2 separate regions of the Homo sapiens genome follow, and region 1 is linked to region 2. Evidence: fine-mapped expression QTL. A gene starts in region 2. The other region holds a variant in brackets. All regions are shown on one strand. Distances are from middle to middle. Region 1 overlaps FAM222B (family with sequence similarity 222 member B). Region 2 holds the start of ALDOC (aldolase, fructose-bisphosphate C).

The links. PIP is the estimated chance that this variant, and not a neighbour inherited with it, causes the effect.
Region 1: its variant is the best candidate, but not a certain one, in a credible set for the expression of ALDOC in whole blood (TOPMed, PIP 0.68).

The regions. Positions count from the first base shown.
Region 1 is chr17:28,838,185-28,842,571 of GRCh38, reverse strand. The region is part of intron 1 of FAM222B (family with sequence similarity 222 member B); the gene reads left to right. Among named protein-coding and RNA genes, the nearest start is that of FAM222B, 2.4 kb to the left of the region's middle. RefSeq lists a silencer at 1-3 and enhancers at 1-203, 4,045-4,387. The variant C/G (reference allele first, on the strand shown) is at 2,059.
Region 2 is chr17:28,574,924-28,579,310 of GRCh38, reverse strand. ALDOC (aldolase, fructose-bisphosphate C) reads left to right here and starts at 2,416. Exons shown (of 9, transcript NM_005165.3): 1 at 2,416-2,510; 2 at 3,767-3,890; 3 at 3,977-4,188; 4 at 4,305-4,359. The coding sequence starts at 3,779. It overlaps SPAG5 (sperm associated antigen 5), which reads left to right. Exons shown (of 24, transcript NM_006461.4): 19 at 59-170; 20 at 559-639; 21 at 783-938; 22 at 1,019-1,093; 23 at 1,221-1,301; 24 at 1,541-1,737. The coding sequence ends at 1,612. RefSeq lists an enhancer at 2,014-2,193 and a silencer at 2,244-2,483.

The DNA.
Region 1 (4,387 bases), 260 kb before region 2:
GGGAGGTACAGTTTGAGGTGATGATGGGAGAATTTGGGGCACGGGTGGCCCGGTCGCCGGCCGCAGAGCTGGACAGCTTGGTGGAGGGGGACGGGGTTGCGTGCTGTGGAGTGAAGCAGCCCATTTGTATCATCCCTTCCTCCAGGAGCTTTTGGTCGCCTCTCCTTTCCGCTTCTTTCAGAGAATGATTGCGGGGGGAGGGTGGTGGAGGATGAAAGCTCTGCTGGAGCTTAAGAAGCCACCTCTGAACCAGGCAGGGGAAGGGTCGGTCTCCCGGAGTAATAGGCTGCTCTGGGTAGAGGATGGGAGTCGGGAACCCTCTTTTGAAAGCCGGGAGGGGTCTAGGGAAAAGAGCTAGGGGCTTAGAGTCAGGCAGGTTCGAAAGGAAGTCCACCATTGATAAAGCTGTTAGGTAACCTTGGGCAGGTCCCACTTAACCTTTCTGAACACCAGGAAGATGTCATGCTTCAAACGGGCTATTGCAAGCATCACCTATGTAATTGAGATTGTTTATGCAAATTGTGAATTGTAAGTACTATGTTGATGTTAATGTATCACCAACAATGTTAGTGGAATTTAGACCTTACCGTTGTTAATGGAATGACTGATTTCTCTGTTAAGATAAGAAGCGTATTGTTTGTAAAACCTCAGTAGACACATATGTGCTTTCTTTATGGGCACAGCAGACCATGTGCAGAACTACCAGTTCTGTAATGTGATAAATTAGCCATCAGACTTCTGTAGGAAAAATACCGTACTCCGGCGTTTTTACAAACGGTTTGCAGCTCCTCACCCGAAAGGATGGAGGGCCAATCTATTAAAATATTTTCTGAACATAGCTAACTCATGTTGCCTTATAACACAGTTGGCACTAATGTGCTTTAACGAGTTGAGAAAAGGCCGGGTGCAGTGGCTCATGTCTGTAATCCCAGCACTTTGGGAGGCCGAGGCGGGCGGATCACGAGGTCAGAAGTTGGAGACCAGCCTAGCCAACGTAGTGAAATCCCGTCTCTACTAAAAATACAAAAAATCAGCCGGGTGTGGTGGCGGGCGCCTGTAATCCCAGCTGCTTGGGAAGCTGAGGCAGGGGAATCACTCGAACCCGGGAGGCAGAGGTTGCGGTGAGCCGAGATAGTGCTATTGCACTCCAGTTCGGGTGACAGTGCGAGACTCCGTCTGGAAAAAAGAGTTAAGAAAACTAGTTTGAGACAAGCTGGGAGGGCTGCCCAGTGAGGGATGTGAAAATATAATTTGTTTATTATATTTTATTTTATTTTTGAGACGGAGTCTCGCTCTGTCGCCAGGCAGGAGTGCAGTGGCATCATCTCGGCTCACAGCAACCTCCGCCTCCCGGGTTCAAGCGATTCTCCTGTCTCAGCCTCCTGAGTAGCTGGGATTACAAATGCCCACCACCACGCCTGGCTAATTTTTGTAGTTTTAGTAGAGATGGGGTTTCACCATGTTGGCCAGGCTGGTCTTGAACTCCTCACGTCAGGTGATCCACCCACCTCGGCCTCTCAAAGTGCCGGGATTACAGGCGTGAGCCACCGTGCCTGGCTATTTTGTTATCTTTATTTTTATTTTATTTTATTATAATTTTTTTTGAGGTGGGTGAAGGAGTCTTGCTCTGTCACCCAGGCTGGAGTGCAGTGGTGCGAACTTGGTTCACTGCAACCTCCGCCTCCTGGGTTCAAGCAATTCTCCTGCCTCAGCCTCCCTAGTACCTGGGATTATAGGCACGTGCCACCATACCCGGCTAATTTTTGTATTTTTTTTAGTACACTCGGGGTTTCTCCATTGCTGGACAGGCTGGTCTCAAACTTCTGACCTCAGGTGATCCGCCCGCCCCAGCCTCCCAAAGTGCTGGGATTACAGGCGTGAACCACCGTGCTTGGCCCATTTTATTATTTTTAAATTATAAAAAGTTCTCCTTTGCAAAGGAGTCTCTGGCTGCTCCGGGGACCTGTCGCTGTTTTGGAGGTCAGATATGCATAAGGCAGCCCTCTAGCTCTGCTTTTTGTTACCCTGCTTGTCAGTGGGATCTCTCAGGTGGAATAT[C/G]TCAGAAGAGGAGCCCAAGAGGTGTCTTGGTTTTCCTGAGAGGCTGAAGAAACACTCCTGAGACGTGTTTTTTAATGTAGACAAAGCAGAGGACAAACTATGTGTTTATGGAAAGAGAAAATGGGTTCTTTTTATTTTATTTTGTTTTGACACAGAGTCTTGTTCTGTCGCCCAGGCTGGAGTGCAGTAGCGCAATCTCGGCTCATTGCAACCTCCACCTCCCGGGTTCAAGCAGTTCTCCTGCCTCAGCCTCCAAGTAGTTGCGATTACAGGCACCCACCACCATGCCCGGCTAGTTTTTGTATTTTTAGTAGAGATGGGGTTTCGCCATTTTGGTCAGGCTGGTTTCGAACCAGGTGATCCGCCTGCCTCGGCCTCCCAAAGTGCTGGGATCACAGGCGTAAGCCACCAAGCGCAGTGAGAAAATGGTTTCTAAAGTAGAGATGCAGACTCCTTTTAAAAGGACATAGACACTTCAGCTTTGCTGACTCTGAGGATTGAGACCTTAAACTGTCAAGGCGTTTTGGCAATTGATGAGTGATTGGTCTTTTACCTGAGTAAAGGTAGGGAGGGGCTATACTAGATTCTTGAAGATTCACAAATAAGGGGAGTGAATTTACAGGAATGGGAAAAATGAACCTGGTTGTTTTTAACTTCTCTGTCTGGTAAAATGTGTTTCACTTTTCTTTCCTGGAAATGCACAGTGATGTATAATTTTAACCTTTTTACTTTAGTTCCTTGACCGTCCCAATAGATTATTTGTCTATAATACTTTGTTTAAGATAATAGTTTTAAAAATAAAGCATTTGTTACTATTGTGATAGGTCATTACAGAAATTTATTCCATGTTTGACTACTACATGGAGTAGAGTATAAAATGTTAAAGCTGGGCATAGCTATCTTATTTTATTTTTTAATAGTTGGACATTTATTTTTAATGTTGGTAATGCATTTTTCCCCCTACTGGAAATTTCCATCAGTTCAAATAAGCGCATAAATGCCACCCATGTTATGTTAAAATAATAGAGGTTTGTTCAGCTGTGATGAGAATTTCCTGTCCTCCTCTCCTTCTGTTATCTTTCCTACTTGTGGTTACTTTTATGTAGTAAATGACCTTACAAAATGAGGATTTCTTTCCCTGGGGAAGAAAAAGGGGTGGGCTAGTATCTTGATTGCCTTTCGTGTGAGAAGTTTTTCTAAAGTGGGAGAGGAACTTTGGAGATTTAAGGACTTCCTGTGAATCTCTGACATACCAGGGGCTAAAATAAATATTTATTGGCTTATTATTATCATTATTATTATTTTTTGAGACGGAGTCCTGCTCTGTTGCCCAGACTGGATTGCAGTGGCGCGATCTCGGCTCACTGCAAGCTCCGCCTCCCGGGTTCTCGCCATTCTCCTGCCTCAGCCTCCCTAGTAGCTGGAACTACAGGCACCCGCCACCATGCCTGGCTAATTTCTTTTCATATTTTTAGTAGAGACGGGGTTTCACCGTGTTAGCCAGGATGGTGTCGATCTCCTGACCTTGTGATCTGCCCGACTCAGCCTCCCAAAGTGCTGGGATTACAGGCATGAGCCACCATGCCCGGCCTTATTTTATTTTTTTTGATACCAAGTTTCACTCTGTTGCCCAGGCTGGAGTGCAATGGCGAGATCTCAGCTGATTGCAACGTCTGCCTCCTGTGTTCAAGTGATTCTCTGGTCTCAGCCTCCTGAGTAGCTGGGATTACAGGCGCGTACCACCATACCTGGCTGATTTTTGTATTTTTAGTAGAGATGACGTTTCACCATGTTGGCCAGGCTAGTCTCGAACTGCCGACCTCAGGTGATCCGCCTGCCTCGGCCTCCCAAAGTGCTGGGATTGCAGGTGTGAGCCACCGCGCCCAGCCAAAAATCTTTTTTTTGTTTTTAAATTCTATTTATTTATTTATTTATTTTGAGATGGAGTCTCTGTCGCCCAGACTGGAGTGCAGTGACGCGATCTCGGCTCACTATAAGCTCCGCCTCCAAGGTTCACGCCATTCTCCTGCCTCCGCCTCCTGAGTAGCTGGGACTACAGGTGCCCGTCACCACGCCCGGCTAATTTTTTGTATTTTTAGTAGAGATGAGGTTTCACCGTGTTAGCCAGGATGGTCTCGATCTCCTGACCTTGTGATCTGCCTACCTCGGCCTCCCAAAGTGTTGGGATTACAGGCGTGAGCCACCGCGCCCGGCCTATTTGTTGTTTTTTTGAGACAGGGTCTCACTCTGTCGCCCAGACTGGAGTGCAGTGGCGCCATCTTGGCTCAGCGCAACCTCTGCCTCCCTGGCTCAAGCAGTTCTCCTGCTT
Region 2 (4,387 bases):
AAGGGTCCAACTGATCCCTGAGAGGACAGGAATGTTGCTAAATTCTTCCTTCCTTCAGTTGTGAGCTGCAAGCTAGGCTGCAGGCCCAGGAAGAACAGCATCAGGAAGTCCAGAAGGCAAAAGAAGCAGACATAGAGAAGCTGAACCAGGCCTTGTGCTTGCGCTACAAGGTGAAGGAGGGACCTAGAAGTGGGGCGATGAAGAACTGGGGCAGCTCTACTGGCCCACTGGGAGCCATTATCTCTCCAGGAATCTGGGTGGTGGGGATTTTCCAACCACTGCCCTAGTTTTGCCCTTCCTGGGGTCAGACATTTCACATGTCAGCTATGGGCTGACCTGTCTTCCCAGGCTGACTCAGGAGAGAAGTCAGGAACTCTAGCAGAGCTCTCCCAACACTGAAATGTGCCTTGCCTGGCTTGGCCCTGGGGAAAGAATTGGCGTGATATCAATTGGTCCCATGTGGGCTAAGCATGGGTCAGGCACTCTCTCCTACCTCCTGGCAAGGGCTGTGAAGAGACCAGCTCTTCATGTGTCTTCTCACCTCCCTTTCCCTCACAGAATGAAAAGGAGCTCCAGGAAGTGATACAGCAGCAGAATGAGAAGATCCTAGAACAGATAGACAAGAGTGGCGAGCTCATAGTATGTTCACCATCATGCCCAGGCCTTTGCCTTCTGTGTTACTGGTCAGCCAGGATCCCAAGTATGAGAAATGGTTTGCTTTTGTTCACCACATGTTGTCTATCCTTATGTCCTATTGGACACCTCTCCATTCTCATTCCCAGAGCCTTAGAGAGGAGGTGACCCACCTTACCCGCTCACTTCGGCGTGCGGAGACAGAGACCAAAGTGCTCCAGGAGGCCCTGGCAGGCCAGCTGGACTCCAACTGCCAGCCTATGGCCACCAATTGGATCCAGGAGAAAGTGTGGCTCTCTCAGGAGGTGACTCAGAGTTAACAGAGGAGCTGGACAGCAGGTGGGGACCCCAGGCTGTACCCCTGTTGATCTGGACATATTTCTAGGTGGACAAACTGAGAGTGATGTTCCTGGAGATGAAAAATGAGAAGGAAAAACTCATGATCAAGTTCCAGAGCCATGTAAGAATGTCCATGCCATTCCAGGGCCATTTCCTACCATCGTTAACAAATGCCCCGCCATGTTTCCCCTGTCCTACCAAGTTTGCTCTTTTATGCATAGGACTTATAAAATCTGTTTGCTTTCTAGAGAAATATCCTAGAGGAGAACCTTCGGCGCTCTGACAAGGAGTTAGAAAAACTAGATGACATTGTTCAGCATATTTATAAGGTATAGGCAGGAGGGAGGTGATATCACTAATGAACCTGGTACAAGGCCTGGCCCCAGGAGGTACTAATGAGCACAGATCTGGTTCCCAGCCTGTGCTGAGAGCTGGGCCTGAATCACTATTGCAGGCTTCTCTGTGGTGTCTGTTTTCTCCCCTCTAATTCAGCGGCTGCCTCCTGGGGCTGGGAGCCCTGGGCCTTAAGTCTGTGGTCCTGAGCTGCGTTTTCTGCCTCTCTTCCCAGACCCTGCTCTCTATTCCAGAGGTGGTGAGGGGATGCAAAGAACTACAGGGATTGCTGGAATTTCTGAGCTAAGAAACTGAAAGCCAGAATCTGCTTCACCTCTTTTTACCTGCAATACCCCCTTACCCCAATACCAAGACCAACTGGCATAGAGCCAACTGAGATAAATGCTATTTAAATAAAGTGTATTTAATGAATTTCTCCAAGCTTACGGAATCTTACTTTTTGGGTGAGAGGGGGCGGATGATGAAGTCAGGGAAGAAGCAGCTTGGGCCTCCTGCCTGGGCACCCTCCATAGATCCCTCTCCACCTCCTGCTGCATCCAAAGCCAAGGCTGCCTGCCCTTCCTCCCTTCCTCTGCTTTCACCAAAACTCTGGGCACTGGACTGCTTGTTCCCTGGCTCACCGCCTGGAGGAAACAGAAAGGCTTCATTCTCTTACTTTCCCCAGCCCCCTCGGGGGTATACCCTGGCAAATATGGGGGTGAGGACAGAGAAGCTCAGTTCATTACTTCCTGCCCTGAACTTGGGCACCTTGAAGATGCTTCTGCCCCACCTACTCAACCTGTTGTTACTGTTCTGGTGCCTCCTCTTCACCAGACTAAGCTTAATCCCCAGCATCCAGCAAGTGCCCGGCACGTGGTAAAGGGATTGTGGCAGAAATGAACGCAAGGTCATGGCCAGGCTCCCCGAGGTGGGAGGGCAGTCCCTAACAGCCACGGATGCCTGGCGGGGCGCTCACTCCACCTCGCCGCCCCGCCTCTGAGGGCGTGGTCTTGCCCCGGACACCAGTCCTGGGGAGGGGGTGTGGTCAGGGCGGGGCATGCAGGCCACGCCCCCGGAGGAGTCACGTAGCTCTGCGACATCCGCAGCCTCATTTACCAGAGGGAGCCAGGGCTGCAGCCTCATCTGTTTGCGGATCAGAACCCGAGCTGTGCTTGTGGCTGCGGCTGCTAACTGGCTGCGCACAGGTAAGGCCAGGCAAGGCGGGAGCCACTCAACATCTCCGCTTCATTTCCTTGGCTCTTCCCCTGCCATCCTCGTCCTGCTACCTGGGACTCCGGGATGTGCCCTTTCGACCCTTTCCTAACATCTTTGCTCCTTTCCGCGTACTTGAAACCCCATGGCTCAACCTCTTCTGTTCTATCCCTCTTCAGCTCTCCCAGCTGGACCTCAGCTTTTCCAATCCCAAATCCTCCTCTACTTGTTGGATTTTTCCTTGGAGTCTGTCTCTCCTACCCAGAGCATTTCCTTCTCAGCCTGCTCCCTCTCCTCCTAGGCTAGGTCCTCTCTCCAGTTCTCCCGCCTTCTCTGCCCCCCGGTCTAGGTCTCTCCCGCTGACTGGTTAGCCTGCATCACCACTAGCTCCCCTCAGTCTCATCTCTCTCTCAGGCTCTCTACTCCTTTCAGCCTTGGTCCTCTGCCCTCCCGTCTGGGTGTCTGAGTTGTGGGGAATTGAAGTGCTTCCTATTGCTATCCTCCTGCCAAACAGGTGAAGTGCTTCCTGGGCACAGAGATGACCCGGAGGTGTCACTAGCCCTAGTCTCCACACACTAACACAGCTGACCCGCTGGGCCCTCTTTCCTACATCACTGCAGCCCCACTGGGGCCAACCTCTGGTACTGGGTGGGAATAGGCAATAGGCATAGGCAGGCAGGTTTGGAGTACAGAAAAGGAGAAGCTGCAGGAGCCTGTGACTGGTATTTGTGCCACTCCTACTCCCTACCTGTTCTTCCAACCTTTTCCTCTAGAAGCTGAGAGAAGAGGGTGGCAATAAGTACTTTTGCCTCATTCTGAAGCCTTGGAAGTAAGTACACTTTCCCTAGGGGTCCTGTGGAGGATGAGAAAAGGGAAGCTGGAAAGGCCAGGACTTTTGCCTACCTCAACAAGGGACCAAGTTCAGTGAAAGAAGGGTTGGCATCCTTGATTGGGCAGCAGATTTATCAGAAGAGCTGTGGCTTCAGGGCTGCTCACCTCCCCACCCCCACCCTGCATCTTTCCCCAGGGCTGGGAAGGATGCCTACCAGGGACAAAAGGAGATGTGGGAACTGGAGCCCTAAGCTTGCTAGCTGTCAGAAGGACTGGTGCCACTTGATGCCCAGGACTCATGCCAAGGACTGCTGCCCTGTTCCCAGCCCCTTGCTTGATGGGGAGGCCATTTGGCCCATCTGGCCAGGAGAGGCAGCAGAGGGTGAGGTCTGGCTTTTTTATCTTGTCTCCACTCCAGGGAGCTGTCACCATGCCTCACTCGTACCCAGCCCTTTCTGCTGAGCAGAAGAAGGAGTTGTCTGACATTGCCCTGCGGATTGTAGCCCCGGGCAAAGGCATTCTGGCTGCGGATGAGTCTGTAGGTAAGTGGACATCTGTAGCCAGGTAGGGTACAGGTGGCTAGGGGACCCTGGGGATGTTCTCACTGCCTCTCTTTGTTTGCCCCTAGGCAGCATGGCCAAGCGGCTGAGCCAAATTGGGGTGGAAAACACAGAGGAGAACCGCCGGCTGTACCGCCAGGTCCTGTTCAGTGCTGATGACCGTGTGAAAAAGTGCATTGGAGGCGTCATTTTCTTCCATGAGACCCTCTACCAGAAAGATGATAATGGTGTTCCCTTCGTCCGAACCATCCAGGATAAGGGCATCGTCGTGGGCATCAAGGTGCAGCCCCTGGCCCTGCTCTGAATGGAAGCTGGGTGTGAAAATAAGCTTGTGTAGGAGGGGTAGCAAGGAGAATCCTGCCTGGATTCAACCCTCTGCTTGTACTTCCTCTACAGGTTGACAAGGGTGTGGTGCCTCTAGCTGGGACTGATGGAGAAACCACCACTCAAGGTATAGGATGGGTGGGCTTGAGGACCAA